Linked DNA regions of Homo sapiens: region 1 is linked to region 2. The links come from fine-mapping of genetic effects on gene expression. Tissue or cell type: whole blood. Region 2 holds a variant in brackets; the other region holds the start of a gene. All regions are shown on one strand. Distances are between the middles of the regions.

The links. PIP is the estimated chance that this variant, and not a neighbour inherited with it, causes the effect.
Region 1: TNS4 starts here. The variant in region 2 is fine-mapped to the expression of TNS4 in whole blood (TOPMed, PIP above 0.99).

The regions. Positions count from the first base shown.
Region 1 is chr17:40,497,203-40,505,372 of GRCh38, forward strand. TNS4 (tensin 4) reads right to left here and starts at 4,421. Exons shown (of 13, transcript NM_032865.6): 1 at 4,332-4,421. RefSeq lists an enhancer at 1,963-2,834.
Region 2 is chr17:40,476,822-40,485,005 of GRCh38, forward strand. TNS4 (tensin 4) reads right to left here. Exons shown (of 13, transcript NM_032865.6): 5 at 8,100-8,184; 6 at 7,663-7,788; 7 at 5,503-5,595; 8 at 5,308-5,385; 9 at 3,879-3,947; 10 at 2,853-3,021; 11 at 1,759-1,827; 12 at 1,486-1,512; 13 at 1-908. The coding sequence ends at 767. Among named protein-coding and RNA genes, the nearest start is that of TNS4, 21 kb to the right of the region's middle. RefSeq lists an enhancer at 3,296-4,495 and a silencer at 4,478-4,663. The variant C/A (reference allele first, on the strand shown) is at 3,752.

The sequences.
Region 1 (8,170 bases), 20 kb after region 2:
GGGAGGTCTTCCTGGAGGAAGGGACACGCAAAGGGAGATAAGAAGGAAAAGCAAGAGGTAGCTGCGCAAGTTGAGTAGGGATGAGGAGGCAGAGAGGAAGATTTAAGTTAGAGGGGATGAGCTGGGCGTGATGGCTCACACCTGTAATCCCAGCACTTTGGGAGTCTGAGGTGGGCTGATCCCTTGAGGTCAGGAGTTCGAGACCAGCCTGGTGAACATGGTGAAACCCCATCTCTACTAAAAATATAAAAATTAGCTGGCATGATGGCACGTGCCTGTAATTCCAGCTACTCAGGAGACTGGGGCAGGAGGATTGCTTGAAGCTGGGAGGCAGAGGTTGCAGTGAGCCGAGATCGAGCCAATGCACTGCAGCCTGGATGACAGAGCAAGACTCTGTCTCTAACTAAACAAATAAACAAATAAATAAACAAAGTAGAGGGGACCATTTGTGCAAAAGTCTGGCCAGCAGGGAAGCTCACAAGACCCTATTGAGCACCTGAGTAACAGAGCACCTGGGGTGGGTGGAGGAGATGGGGCGGGGGAGGCAGGCTGGCCAGATCCCGTAGGGCCTTGCAGGCTGGGCTCAGGACTGCCAGCTCAACCCTGAGGGCAACAGGGAGGCTCTGAAAAGTTTTGAGCTGGGGAGTGACATCATCAGATGATATTCATTTCCTTGGGGCTCATTTGGGAAAGAGATGTCTCAACCTCCTCATTTTCCTTACTGTGAAAAGTCCTTTCCATTGTCTAACCTTAATGCCACATGCTAGTTTCTTGTAGGTGGGGCTTGGTAAGGAGGTAAGAAGTTCTGGGACTGAGGCTGCCAAGAAAACTGTACAGAGCTGCAATGTGCTGGTTACACTCCCATTGCCTGCTCTGAGCTTTGCTGCTGGTCCCCAGCCCCCACCAACACCCCCCAACTCTCTTTCTTCTCGTTGCCAAAACGCCTCCTTTACGTCCTGTTTTGGAGTCAGACCTTAGCACTGGAAAAGGTATCTGAGACTAGCCTGGGAGAAGAGAAAGTGGACTCTGGGATCCGAAGGTTTAGATTTGACTTCTAGCTCAAATAGCTCCTTATGGTGTGACTCTGACCCTGAGTTTCCTCATCTGTGAGATGGTAATGAGAATTCCTGCACCCTCCCAGAGAGTGTTATGGAACCAGTGAGGTGCTCCTTGTGAAGGTAGTTAGGCAATTCTAAATAGTACTTAGAAATAAGGACTTATGGAGTATAACAGCCTCATAATAGTAGCTTCCATTTATTGAGCGCTGACCATGTGCCAAATAGTTTACATACGAATTACATTGGTAACTCAATCCTCTCACAGCTCTAGGAAGTACTGCACCCTATTGTCAGTCCTCTTGTTTTTTTTTCTTGAGACAAGGTGTCGCTCTGTTGCCCAGGCTAGAGTGCAGTGGCACAGTCATGGCTCACTGCAGCCTTGACCTCCTGGGGCTCAAGCGATTCTCCCAGCTCACCCTCCCGAGTAGCTGGGACTACAGGCTTGTGCCCTATACCCAGAGAATTTTTTGTAGAAAGAGGGTCTCACTTTGTTGCCCAGGCTGGTCTTGAACTCCTGGGCTCAAGTGCTCCTCCTTCCTCGGCCTCCCAAAGTGCTAGGATTACAGGTGTGAGCCGCTGTGCCTGGCCTTATTTATTTATTTTGAGTTGTCAGTCCATTTTACAGATGAAGATGCTGAGACTCGGAGAGGTCAAGAAACACGCTTCACATCCAGAAAGATGGTGGAGCTGGGATTCAAACCCAGGTGTGGGATTTTGGAATCTTAATTCCTTATGCTAAGGGAGGAGACCACCCCTCATATTGTCTTATGCCCAATTTCTGCCTCCAAAGAAAGAAAAAGTAAAAACTAAAAGGCAGAAATGAAATCCACAAGCAGACAGCCCAGCGCCACACCCTGGGCCTGGTAGTTAAAGATCGACCCCTGACCTAATCGGTTATGTTATCTATAGATTACAGACATTGTATAGAAATGCACTGTGAAAATCCCTTTCCTGTTTTGTTCCCACGTAATTACCGGTGCGTGCAGCCCCCAGTCACGTACCCCCTGCTTGCTCAATTGATCACGACCCTCTCACACGCACCCCCTTAGAGTTGTGAGCCCTTAAAAGGGACAGGAAATGCTCACTCGGGGAGCTCGGCTCTTGAGACAGGAGTCTTGCTGATGCCCCCGGCCGAATAAACCCCTTCCTTCTTTAACTTGGTGTCTGAGGAGTTTTGTCTGCGGCTCGTCCTGCTACAATGCCACATGGAATTCAAGTGCAGAGGGACACCTGGGATCTAGAGAGGGGGCATGATTGGCTGAAGGTCGCACAGGTTTCATGAGAAAAGCCAGGGCCCCTTCCCCTCTCCTGCCTCCCCCAACGCCCGTGGCTCCGGTAGGTCTGATGCCAGACTTTTCCTTGGCCAGGTCCTGCAGGGGGCGGGGCATCCCGGGCACGGGAAGCTTTCTATAAATGGAAGTGGAAGGGAGCCGGCCTCTGCGCTCCCGCCCTCCCGGGACAGCTGAGGACACAGAGCCGGAACCACGGCTTTTTCCACACAGGCTCCAAGTGGACTGGGTTTGTTGGGACAGGATCTGGGCGCTCCCTGCAGGGTTTTCTGGCTGTGTCCTGCAGAGGAGGCTGGGGCTGCTGACTTTGCAGAGCTCAAGGAGGGCTGGGTGTCCCCTCGCAACCAGGACCCAGTATACCTGCTTACTAATTTGGACACAGCTTTTGTGCCACGCTGGGCAAGCGTCCTTTCCTCTCTGGGCAGACCTCAGTTGTCCCATCTGTGTGATGGGGATGTGATAATAACAGACACTGAACACCTTGCATTTTCTCAACAGCTCTCTGAGGAGGGTGCTATTGCTGCAGGGCTGGAGAGGTTGAGGAATTTGCCCAAGGTCATACAACCCCAACTGTGAATTGGGGTTTAAACCCAGGTGGTCTTGCTCCACGGTCCCACACTTTTAGCCTCTGCTGCTGCTTCACATATTTAAGAACCCTGTCCACCGCTGCCCCTTCTGGGATTCTGGAACCAAGAGGGACAGACCTGGAGCTGAGCAAAGGGCAGGCAGCCCCTACGCTCCTCTTCAGCCTCCCCTCACTTTTAAGGCTCTGCGTCGCCCTTGGATGTACCAAGGCAGGGCTCCATCTTACTCCTGTATTCCTGAATGCTGCCCCCTTCGCGGCCCCGCACACTCCTCTAACTTGCTCTTTCTTGCTGTAAGTGGTGGGGAGAGTCCCTGGGCCCGGGGCTCTGTGTGGTTGGGAGGCACGGGGCGGGGGCAAGGAGGGCTCCAGCCACCTCTGCTCTATTTGTAGGTGCCCCCTACCCGCTCCCACTTCTGATTCTGACTCAGATCTCTTTCTTTGTTCCCAAGGACTCTGGGGAGTCCTGGTGCCTTGGCAAATCCCCTCTTCCGTGTCATTGCCAACCTCTTCTCCTGACTTACTCTCTCCCAATGAGCCCAGGTCAGTGAAGGGAGAGGGTGGGGCAAGGGTAAAGCCTGAGTCTCCCCCAAAGCACTTTGCCTCATTAGCCCAATCTCCACTGCACCCCCTATTTTTGAAAACTGGCTCCCGATCTTCCCATCCCTCCCACCCAGACCCGGTGACGCAGGACGTGGACCTCAGGCAGGGACCCATAGGACCAGTGAAGGCCAGCCGCCCCATCTCCCAGTCCTGTCTACCTCTGAAGTGCCCAGAGGGCTCCCAGAGCGCTGGGAGGCGAGAGGCCTGGGTTCTGTGTCCAGTCCCTTTCCATGACCTCAGGCAAGCCTCTTCTCTGTGGCCCTCAGCTCTCTCATCTATTTGCCGAGGGGCACAGGTTTAGTTCCCTTGAACTGCTGAACTCCGCGGTCTGTGATCCTGAGACCATCTCTGTCTCATCCACATCCTCCACCCCATTTCTCCCCACCTTCACTCTGAGCCCTGAGAAATGGAGAAGCTGAAGACAAAAGGTTAAATGAGGCTGGGCTCACGCCTGTAATTCCAGCACTTTGGGAGGCTAAGGTGGGAGGATCACCTGAGGTCAGGAGTTTGAGACCAGCCTGGCCAACATGGTGAAACCGCGTCTCTACTAAACATAAGAAAATTAGCCGGGCATGGTGGCAAACATCTGTAATCCCTGTTACTTGGGAGGCTGAGGCAGGAGAATCGCTTGAACCCTGGAGGCAGACGTTGGCAGTGAGCCGAGATCGCGCCACTGCACTCCAGCTTGGGTGACAGAGCAAGACTCCATCTCAAAAAAAAAAAAAAAAATGTTTAAATGAATCAGGGCCAGCAAAGGTGCTCCGTGTTCCTCTCTTCTTAAAGAATAAAGGCACCTACCTGGTGTCCACAGGTGGGCAGACTGTTGCCTTCACTACTGGCTCCTGGGACCAAGACGACTCAGAGTCCAGGTGAAGAGTCAGGAGAGGCGCCAGTTCACCTCCAGACCTGCCTTAAAAGCAGCTTGCCCGCCTTCTCTCCTCCCCTCCGGGCGGGCCCTGCACGTGGCCCTGACAGCAGTAGGCCCCACCCCTGCTGGATCCAGTGAGCTCAGGTGGGGCTGGCACAGGCAGCAGGAAGGGAAGCACTGGGTGGTGGGTTTTGGGTCTGGGTGTGTGTGAGGGGCTCCCAAGTTCCTGCTTGGGCTTCTCGTGGCACCACATGGCCAGGGAGTCCTTGCTTGGACAGGGCATAGCTAGAATCAAGGTGTGCAGTGGGCACTCCTCAGGTGCTGGCTGGGGCAGAGGCCATGGGTTGGCAGAGCTGGCAGAGAGTGAGGGCCTTGACAAAGCAGGATGCCAGTGGGCAGGAGACCCTCTGCAGTCCCCCTTTGTGCTGGGTCACACTGGGACAGGCACAGGGTAAGGGCCCACTGGAAGTAAGGCTAGGCACGAGCTTGTCTTTTCTTCTTTCTCTCCTTTTACAGTAATGACTCTAGCTTGGGATGGGGCCTCTAACTCAAGGAAAGGAGGCTGAAGTGTCTGGAGGGCTTTGAGAAGGGGCTTATAGCTGTTCCTTCACTCATGGGCTATCTCTGTCCCTCGTCTGGTCTGTGCCCCAGGGTGGAAGTTCCCTGAGGGGAGGACATTGGAGGGTGAGATCAGGAAGCCCAGAAGTCTGGTCTGGTAGCTCCTTCTCCATGGTTCCAACTCTCTCCCTGTTCTAGAGGGGCAGGGGTCCTAGAATGTTGTAAGGAGGTGTTCAGACATGGTGAGGGGAGGGTGCTGATGGCAGAGCCTGGTCTGGGAGCGGTCTGAAGTGAGGGAGCTGGCGAAGTCTCCAGCCCAGGGACTCATGGTGATCCCAGTAGGCTAATCTCAGGGGTGGGTTGCCCCATGCCCCCATTATGCCCAGTGGAAGGGCTTCTGGCCTTACAGTTTTTGATGCCCTGGGGTTTCACTGAGGCATGGTGAACTAGTGCATGGGAGGCCGGTGAGCAAAGCTATGGAAAGTTATATAAGGTGCCCCTTCCTGATGGTGACATAAAAGGTGTCCCTAGGTGTCCATGCAGCCTTGTTGGCACATGGCTTGATGAGCAATTATGTCTTTGGATGAAAAATGTGGTGCTCCTGCCCTGGAGTGGATGTCACTGCACATGGCGGCTTCCCCCATGAGGCTGTGGCTCATGATTGTGGGAGAGTGGGAGGGGCGACTCGTGAGTTTCTTGAGTGGAAGGGGCAGGTTACAGTAGGGCGAAGTGTTGGGCAGAGACTGTGGCAACTCCGGGGTAACCCTGGCCATCTCCCCTGGGGCTGGTATGGATAGCCTCTGCAGTGGTTCTTCAGGGCCAGGGGGTCCTCCAGCCTTACAGACCCATACCTGGGGGTTATGGTCTTTCTTGGCAGATTGGCTCTTTTGTTTCACACCCAGCTGCTTCCTTTAGCTTAAGATGGTCTCAGAACAGTGATTTCAGCCCCAGCTGCCTCACAAACCCTGCCCAACACCACATCACTGCCCTTTGCCGTGATCATCAAGGGATGGATGGAGTGGCATTTCTTTATACATCTATAGATATGACATTTTTTCTTTAGCCTATGGATGTGATAGATTACATTAATTTACTTTTGAATTTTGAACCCTCCTTGCATACCTGGGATGAACCCCCTGGTCATGGTATATAATTCTTTTTTTTTTTGTGATGGGGTCTTGCTATGTTGCCCAGGCTGGTCTCAACCTCCCGGACTCAAGTGATCTTCCCACTTCAGACTTTGGAGTAGCTGGGATTACAGACATGTACCACTATGCCTGGGTCTGTATAATTCTTCTAATACATTGTTGGGTTCAATTTGCTAACATTTTGTGGAGGATTTTTGCATCTATGTTCATGAGTGATATTGGTGTCTAGTTTTCTTTTGTATCTCTGGTTTCAGCAATGCTGGCCTCATAAAATGAGTTGGGAAGTGTTCCTTCTGCTTCTATCTTCTGAAAGAGGTTGTAGAGAAGTGGTCCTATTTCTTCCTCAAATGTTTGGTAGATTTCACCAGTAAAACTGTCTGGTCCTGGTGCTTTCTGTTTTGGAAGGTTATTAATTATTAATTCAATTCTTTGCTAGATATAAGCCTATTCACAGCATTTCTTTTCAACCTCAAAATACACTATTTCCCTAGTTGACGGGGGCACCTTGTCCTACATCTACTCTTCTGAAAGAAGGGATTCCAAGTAGATTAAAAAAAAAAAGTCCAGCCTATATTTTGATGTATTCTGCATGTCTCTCACTAAGGGAGAGGGAAAATCAATTAAAGAAACCAAGAAATGGCCGGGTGCAGTGGCTCACGCCTGTAATCCCAGCACTTTGGGAGGCCGAGGTGGGTGGATCACGAGGTCAGGAGATCGAGATCATCCTGGCTAACACAGTGAAACCCCGTCTCTATTAAAATACAAAAAATGAGCCGGGCGTGGTGGCGGGTGCCTGCAGTCCCAGCTACTCGGGAGGCTGAGGCAGGAGAATGGCGTGAACCCAGGAGGCAGAGCTTGCAGTGAGCCGAGATCGCACCGCTGCACTCCAGCCTGGGTGACAGAGCAAGACTCCATCTCAAAAAAAAAAGAAACTAAGAAATGTAATTTCTGACTGAGTTTTTTTCTTGTAGAGAACCCACATTACTCATTCATTCAAAATACATTTATTTGGCTGGGTGTGGTGGCTCACGCCTGTAATCCCAGCACTTTGGGAGGGCACACTGCCGAGGTGGGCAGATCGCCTGAGATCAGGAGTTTGAGACCAGCCTGGCCAACATGGTGAAATCCCGTCTCTACTAAAACCACAAAAACTAGCCAGGCATGGTGGTGGGCACCTGTAATCCCAGCTACTCGGGAGGCTGAGGCAGGAGAATCTCCTGAACCTGGGAGGTGGAGGTTGCAGTGAGCTGAGATTACGCCACTGTACTCCAGCCTGGGTGTCAGAGTGAGACTCCATCTAGAACAAACAAACAAACAAATAAACAAAAAACAACAATTTATTGAGTGCCCCTGCATTCAGATGTTAGGATATAGAGATGAATGGGACAAGGCTCCTGCCCGCAAGGAGCACACTGTTCATGGGGGAGTATGACTCATAGACAGAAAGGCCCCCAAATCTCAGCCTGGTGCAACCAAGAGGCCTACAAAAGGCTGGAGCTGAGCCATCTTCTGTCAGCGTTAGTCGTGTGTGGATACGGAGCGCCTGAAATGTGGCTAGTCTAAACAAAGATGTGCTGTGGGTGCAAAATACAATTCAGATTTTAAAGACTCAGTATGAAAAATTATATGAAATATCTCAATAGTAATTGAATAATTTTTTTTTTTTCTAGAAATGCAGTAACATTATGTTGCCCAGGCTGGTCTCAAACTCCTGGCTTCAAGCTATACTCCCACCTCGGCCTCCCAAAGGGCTGGGATTACAGGCGTGAGCCACCATGCTTGCTCAGTAATTTTTTATATTGATTGTGTGTGGAAATGATGCTGTTTTATAGATACTGGGTTAAATAAAAACATTATTAAAATTAATTTCCTCTGCTTCTTTTTACTTTTTAAGATGTGTTTTATTAGTTTCTCGAGACTATCGTAACAAATTACCACAAACCTGATGCTTTAAAACAACAAACATTTATTCTGTCACAGTCTGGAGCCTGAAATTGGACAGAGCCATGCTCCTTTCAGGGATTGAAAGGGAGAATCCATTCCTTGCCTCTTCAAATTTCTGG
Region 2 (8,184 bases):
CACTGCAGTTCAGCCTGGGTGACAGTGAGACTCTGTCTCAAAAAAAAATAAAAATAAAAACCAAGTGGAAAGAAAAGATGGGGTGATACTCATCTGCAAGGGGGTGCAGGACAGCTGGGTCTCCTCTGACCATGGGGACAAGTTCCCCCTGCTGAGCTGCCCTAAATACCACACCCAGCTTGGCCTGCAGCATCCTGGCTGGGTGGACCCAAAAAGCCACCCAGAAAGTGGGAAAAGGAACAGAGGAACAGATATGGAAGGAAATAGAGTCTATCCATTCCTGTTTTGTAGTCAGTTCTTGACCATCACCAGCTGCAAGCCAGGAGCCCCGTGGGTCACCGCCAGGCACCTGCTGTCTGCCACGAAACAGGGGCTGCAGGTCTCTTGCTCAGACTGTTGTGTGGGCAGGGCCCAGGTCGATGGGGTCAGAGGGTCCTTGGAGGTTATTTTCATGCAGGGGTCTTCAGAGGTGTGCATGCTTCAGAATCATGGAGGAGCATGTTCAAATGCCCACCAGCATCTAAGAACAGCTGATCTTGTCTATTGGTCTTCTTCTATGATTGAGGAAACTGAGGCCCGGGGGGTCTGGATGATGGTGACTGCTGAAGGCCATAGCAGGTTCAAGGGTGTCAACTTGATGCCAATCCCCCTAGTCCCATAGATTGGTCTGTCAATATGGCCACAAGCCACACCCATTCAGGGGGTGGAGGGGGGCTCCTTAGCGAGCCCCTGGAGGTGTTGGTTAGGTGCACAGGCAGTCTCTCCCCTACATCCTTTCTGCGTCCTGCAGCAGAGCAGTCACCAGGCCGATGACCTGCGAGGCTGGCTGGACCATGTCATACTCCGCAAAGAGGTGGCATACGTTCTCCTGAGGCTCTGTCTGGCTCTTGGCCACAAACCCAAAGATCCTGGTGGGGGAGGGCAGTCTGAGTGAGGGGTGGGACCCAGGGAGGCATCAGGCTGGTGGGAATGGGGTGGTGGGGGGCCCTCAGCCTGCATCTCATTCCTCCCTGCCCCTCCCTTAGCCAATTGACTCCAGCACCTCCTTATGGTGGGGCTCCCTGGGGAAGGAGATGCCTCTCCCGTCAGACTGGGAGATTTCTGAGTTCAAGCTCTGGGTTTCCTTTGTTTTGAGTGAGGGCTCCTTGAGGACAGGACCTGTGCATTCCCCATTAGAGTGGAAGCTCCCTGAGGGCAAGGATGCATCTTGATCATCAGACTGGGACATTCCAATAGCTTGAGGCTCCCTGAAGTTAGAGCCTGTGCCTCTTGCAGAAGATTGAGGGCTCCCAGGCTCATGTCACCCCCAACAGCCCAGAGGCTCTGAGGGCAGTCAAAGTCTTTCCCATCAGATGGGAGCTCCCTGAGGACCAGGGCCTGTGCCCTCATCAACACTTTGGACTATTAAAGTCAGAATGGTGCCTCTTTCCTTCTGCAGTTCCCTCCCCATGTTGGGTTTGGGGCCCTGAGACAGGAAGGCCTTACCAGGAGGGTTTGCAGTACTTCTGCCACCTGTAGGAAAAGAACATGATACCGAGTAATGAGGCTTCGCTCCATGCCACAGGACCCTGGAGGAGCAGCAGGACTGGCCAGCTGCGTCCCCACCCCACCATGCCCCACCCTACCCTCATTCTGTCACCCTGACCCCTTGAGGTTCACAGGCTCCCTCTGGGATCCCAGGCCCAGAGTCGGCAGGACGCCTTGGTGGGCAGCGGGGCCCTGGACAGCCTTCTTAGTTTGGCCCAGCCTTGAACTTACTTCCGTTGCTCAGGGTCCATACCACAGAAGCGGAGGGTGGTGAGTGGGTAATGGCGCCGGAAAAACACCCTAGGAGGAGGCGGGGAGAGAAGGGAAGCGATGACAGCCTGTCCCAGTGTCATCCTGCCTCCAGCATCTCTCGTTCCCCCCAAGCTCAGGTGCCCTGTCCTCCAAGAAGTCTCTGGGTTAGACCTTGAAGACCGCTATGGCCTTTCCCACTGGGGGGCCCTGGCGCCCCGCTCCTGCCTCTCTCCTCTCATGGGGCTTGTCTGCCTCTGTCTTACACTCTGGGGTTTTCTATCACACCCCTACCACGCCATTTAATTTTTTTTGGCCACTAACTTTTTGAGGACACGAATTACATCTTGGTCATCTCTTGTTTCTCCCTGTGAAGTGCTCAGCCCTGGATCAGGCTCCTGTTAGACTGTGAGATCCGAGCCTGGGGAAGGAACGATCTCATTCCTCTCTGGGTCCCAGTGGTCAGCCAGTCTGGCCGAGGGAAGATGTTCCATCAATGGGTGCAGGCATAATCGGCACCCATGAATACTAGTTAACTCCATTTCCTTCCTTCCTTCCTTCCTTTTTTGAGATGGAGTTTCACTCTGTCACCCAGGTTGGAGTGCAATGGCGTGCTCTCAGCTCACTACAACCTCCGCCTCCTGGGTTCAAGCAATTCTCCTGCCTCAGCCTCCCAAGTAGCTGGGATTACAGGTGCGTGCCACCATGCCCGGCTAATTTTGTATTTTTAGTAGAGACGGGGTTTCATCATGTTGACCAGGCTGGTCTCGAACTCCTGACCTCAGGTGATCCGCCCGCCTCGGCCTCCCAAAGTGCTGGGATTACAGGCATGAGCCACCGTGCCCGGCCCCCGTTAACTCCATTTTCATCAGTCATGATGAACAGGGGCTTTGGCAGTGGAGTGAGGCCTGGAGGAGGCAGGGAAGCTGCCTGGAGTCACTCAGCACATCACTGGCCCCGCTGGGTCATCCAGAACCCTGAACTTGACCTTCATCCCTGATCTGCAGCTGTCTCAGCTATCCCCTCCAGCTCTACTCCGCCAGCCCCGGAGCCCCAGGGCAAGGGAAGGCCCTTACTTCCTCTGGACATCAGTCAGAGTGATGCCCTGCTCTGTGACTTTGAAGTGGACCACGGTGGGCGTGGGGAGGATGTCCCTCTCAAAGGTGGTGGAGATGGCTTTCTGCACGGCCAGGGCTCCAGTCAGGGTCTCCACGCTCACTGAGCTCAGGTACAGGGTGTGGCAGCCTGTGGGAGGCAGACACTGCGCTGGGGCCACTGACCCAGGGCCCAGGTTCTCCCTCTGCCCAGGGCCAGGGGAGGGGGTGAGTCTCCTGTTCAGGAATCCAGTGGAGCTCCTCTTAGAGCCGCCACCCAACAGAAAGTGGGTGTGTGGGTGATCACAGTTTGAGGCCAACCCCAGAGGGCTTTGGGATCTTCTGTGGCTTTGCATCGCCCTGGCCCCTGGCCCTCCAGCATGGGGCAGGGGAGGGGATGTTGCCCTGTGTGTAGAGGTGCCCAGGAAAACATCCTTCTGTCCACACTTAACGGCTGCTCTCCTCCCCACACCTCCATCTTCAAGGTCTTGGTTCATTGGCAACGGTAGGGACAGAAGACAAGAATGGGGAAGGAAATTGTTCGTGCTCAGGGCATAGAGCAGGAACAGTCACTGAGACAAGTGCTGATGTGTGCTGGCCTCTGGGAGTGTGGGTCAGGGACCTTTCCCCTGGTGAAGGCTCCAGGACTTAGACCTGACACCCCATAGAGGATCCCAGACCCAGAACCACCTCTAGGGCAGGTTTCTCAGACCTAGAGAGACCCTAGCACGTGTGCACATGCCCATGTGTGTGCAGGAGGGACTGTAAGTTCTGCCACTCCCCCCACCCCCCACCCTGCCCCACTTCCCTGCTGGCCTCTCATCTTCTGTTTTACAGGGGTGATGGGGAGCGGGTGTGGCACCTTGTTAAAGATGCAGAAA[C/A]AAAGCTGAGATGGGAAACACGTGTGTGCCTGTGCGTGTGTGCGTGCATGCGTGCGTGTGTGCAGGGTTGGGAGGTGCCCTCTTGGGGCACAGCCAAGCTTGGCGCCTCCCTTCCTGTACCACTCACCCGCAGATTTCTTCTGGCAGGAGGCTGGGCTGTCTGTAGAGTCCGAGGCCCCATCTGCACCTCCCAGTTCTGAGCCAAGGCAAAGAAACAGGCCCCCCAAAGGGGCGGGGGTGGAGTGAATGGACCCCTCTCACAGGAACAGGCCTCATGAATCCCTTTGAAGATCTCCCACCTCCACCCCCATCTCCAGGAAGTGACTCAAACCAGGTGTGATTACCGTAATTAGGCAAACAGGCCACTTTGGGCTCCCTAAATGCTTAGTTTGCAACCCTTTTGATCTCTTCATCCCCTCCTCGCCCCCCCACCTCTTAGATGGCTGCCATGATCTTGTCCTCACAGGCCCCTGACCTCCTCACTTCTTTTGGACCCTGTCTCAACCCCTGACCTGTCTTTGCAGAAAGCGAGGAGGCTCTCACCATCGCTCCTCTGGGGCTCCCTTGCCTTGATGCCCTTCCAGAAACAGCCCTTCTCGAGCTTCTCCTGCACACCCCTGAGATGATCTATTTCATCTGAGCTGCCCCCCTACCTGGCTGTATGCTCTGGATAGGGCATGCTGATCTGGGTTCAAGGTCTGACTCTGTGGGCCTTTGGGCAAATTACGTAACATCTAGAACCCTCGTTTTCTTTTCCTTCCTTTCCTTCCTTCTTTCTCTCTTTCTCTCTTTCTTTCTTTCTTAGATGAAGTCTTGCTCTGTCGCTCTGTCACCCAGGCTAGAGTGCAGTGGTGCGATCTTAGCTCACTGCAACCTCTGCCTCCCCGGCTCAAGTGATTCTCCTGCCTCAGCCTCCTGAGTAGCTGGGATTACAGGCGCCCACCACCACGCCCAGCTAAATTTTTGTATTTTTAGTAGAGACGGGGTTTCACCATGTTGGCCAGGCTGGTTTCGAACTCCTGACCTCAAGTGATCTGCCCGCCTTGGCCTCCCGAAGTGCTGGGATTACAGGCGTGAGTCACCACGCCCAGCCCTTATTTTCTTATCTGTGAAATGGGGATGATAACAGCAAAGTCTACTTCACAAGCTTGTAGTGAAGCATGAATGGGTGAGTGAGTGCTCAACAAATGCTGGACCTGGAAAGAGAAAACCTCTCCAAACTATTTGATTTAGGCTCTTTCACCCTCTCAAAGCAGGCTGCTATTTATCCAACATCCATTCTATGCCAGGCATTGCGCTAAGAGCCTTGCCCGGGCTATCTCTTTCGGTCTGCACAGCAATCCTATAAGTAGGTATGATGAGGAAACTGAGGCTCAGAGAGGTCAACATTCTCAAATTTTCACAGCTAGGAGGTGGAGATGTTGAGCGACTCCAGTGCACACAGTTTTAACCGTGACACTAAAATAATCCACCAACAAGGTAGGAGTGAACCCCATTTCTAATGAGAACAAACAGGTCCCCCACCTTGGCATTGCCTCTTTGGGGCCCAGACCCACCTCTCTGTGGGATGGTGAGTTTGCAGGGCAGGGCCAGGGCCATGATGGAATGCTGGCACACGAAGGCAGAGAGGCTCCCTGAAAGGAAGCAAGCAGCCCTGCATGAGTAGAGCTTCCCCAACCCACCCCTCAGCTCACAACGGAGACTTCGCTGGCCCCCCATCCCGGGGGAGCCTGGAGGCTGGGGAGTCTCACCAAAGTAGGGCTCCTCATCTGCTCCTTTGAGATGCACTCCTTTGGCAGACGACTCGATGAGGAAGTGTCGGATGAGGTCATTGCTGTCCTCACCTGGACAGAGAAGAAAGAGTGCATTCGGATAGAATTCCACCTTGTGGCCGGGCGCGGTGGCTCACGCCTGTAATCCCAGCACTTTGGGAGGCCGAGGTGGGCAGATCACTTGAGGTCAGGAGTTCGAGATCAGCCTGACCCACATGGTAAAACCCTATCTCTACTAAAGACACACACACACACACACACACACACACACACAGTCACACACACAAAGCCGGGCGTGGTTCACATGCCTGTAGTCCCAGCTACCCGGGAGGCTGAGGCAGGAGAATTGCTTGAACCTGGGAGGCAGAGGTTGCAGTGAGCCGAGATTGTGCTACTGCACTCCAGCCTGGGTGACACAGTGAGACTCTGTCTCACCGGAAAAAAAAAAAATTCCACCTTGTCCATCCCCCTGCCTCTCCCTCCCACAGAGGAGGTGCCAACACATCTGCTCAATGGCTCCAGCCACACCCTCTTCAGGAAACCTTTCTCTTCTTCTTTTTTTGGGGGTGGGGTGGGGAAACCTTTCTGCTGGTCAAGAGTTATCAGGGATTTTTTTTTTTTTTTAGACAGAGTCTTGCTCTGTCTCTTAGACTGGAGTGCAGCGGCATGATCTCGGCTTACTGCAGCCTCAACCTCCTGGGCTTAAGGAATCCTCCCACCTCAGCTTCCTGAGTAGCTGGGACTACAGGCGTGCCCCACCATGTCGGGCTAATTCTTTTGTAGAGACAAGGTCTCACTATTTTGCTCAGGCTGGTCTCGAACTCCTGAGCTCAAGCAGTTCTCCTGCTTCGGCCTAGGGATTATTTTATTTTATTTTTTTTAGACAGGGTCTCATTCTTTGGTCTAGGAAGGAGTGCAGTGGTGTGATCATGGCTCACTGCAGCCTCAAAGACCTCCTGGGTTCAAGTGATTCTGCTGCCTCAGGCTCCCAAGTACCTGGGACTACAGGTGTGCTCCACCACACCTGGGTAATTTTTGTAGCGACAGGGTTTTGCCATATTGCTCAAGCTGGTCTCAGATTCCTGGGCTCAAGTGATCCTCCTGCCTCGGCCTCCCAAAGTGCTGGGATTACTGGCGTGAGCCACTGTGCCTGGCAAGGAAACTTCTTAATTATTTAGATAAATGTCGACTCTTTGGTCTGGTTTCTGTCTCCCCCTGCCCACCAGGTCATCTCTGCTGGAGCCACGCTGGCCCCGGGGGTGGGGAGGTGAACAATGACCTTCTGACTCCTTTCCACCAGTCCACAGTGTCCTCCTCAGTCTGGGCTCATTGCCTCTTGCAAGGCGTCCTTTATAAGTAACACCCTCCCCAGAGGTCACTTTCTTATTGTGACAGTGAGGCATACTGTCAAGAACACAAGGCTGGGTGTTTCATCCTCCCTTTATCACTTAATTGCTCTGGAGTCATTAAGTAACTCTGGGAGCCTCCGTTATCTCATCCGTTAAATAAGAAGGTGCAATCCTGGGGTTTGAGTGAGGCCTATGACCCAGGTACCTTGTACTGTAATCATCTGTTTTCATCTGTCTCCCTAGTGAGGTGGTGTCTGTGTCTGATTCCACTGTATCCCTGCTGCCTCACACAGTGCCTGGTGTGTGGTGATGCTCCATAGATGTTTGCTATCAAATAAGCATGGGAGACCACAGGAAAGCATATAAGCTATCACACACATGTGCGCTGAGCTAGTACACAAACCTGGTAAGCTATCACCTGTGAGATAAGCTAGCTGCGTGTGTAATCACACATTAGGTTCCCTGGAAATGAATCCAGTTTGACTCCAAGAAGAGCAGCCTAGAGGGGGCTAGGACCCTCCTCCTTCTCTCCCACCATCAGAAAAAAGCAGGGAAGTGGGGGTGGGGCTCGGGAAGGCAGAAGCACGCAGGCTTGCTGTGAAAGGCGTTTTTCAGGGTGCCTTGGGGCTGGAGGGCATCGGGGAGAACACTGGGGTGGACGCTTCTCCTAGGAGCTGTTATAAGACTGGCGCCATGTCACCCTGAAAGCTAGTGCCAGAGCCAGGACTGGAACCTACCACACCCCGCTGCCTCAGTGAGGCCTTGAGTGAGCACAGAGACAGACGCATACCTGGTCGACTCTGAGCAGACGCGGGAACCTCCTGCACCTTCAGGGCCAGGCCGAAGGAGCCTCGGTATGAAGAGCTGTCCCTTATGACAAAAGCCCCTGGCTCCTCCTTCCTCAGCAGCTCGATTGCTGGAACAATCCTTGAGTCAGAGATGGACACCGCCCCACCTGGACACCCTGTCCCCAGCCCCGTAGGGTCTTCACAGAGCAGATGTTACAGAGTCACCTTTTGTCCCCAGGAAGTCCTTTGTACTGTCAAATCTCCACCATTCTTGCTGTGGTTCCTACTTCCTCGGGAGGTCATGAGGTCAGCAGGACATCCCCCTCCCCCGCTTCCCAGGACCCACTATTTGCCATTCCTTAACTGTAACCCAGGGCCCTGCCTGATGCAAAGTGCAAGACCCAGACCCTATTCTGGGGTCACTCGTGCTTCCTTTTACCTTGCTCTCGGGTGATGTTTGGCTTAAACCAGTATTTAGATGTGTCCATCACGAACTTCATGGTGGGCTGCATGTCCCTGGCGGG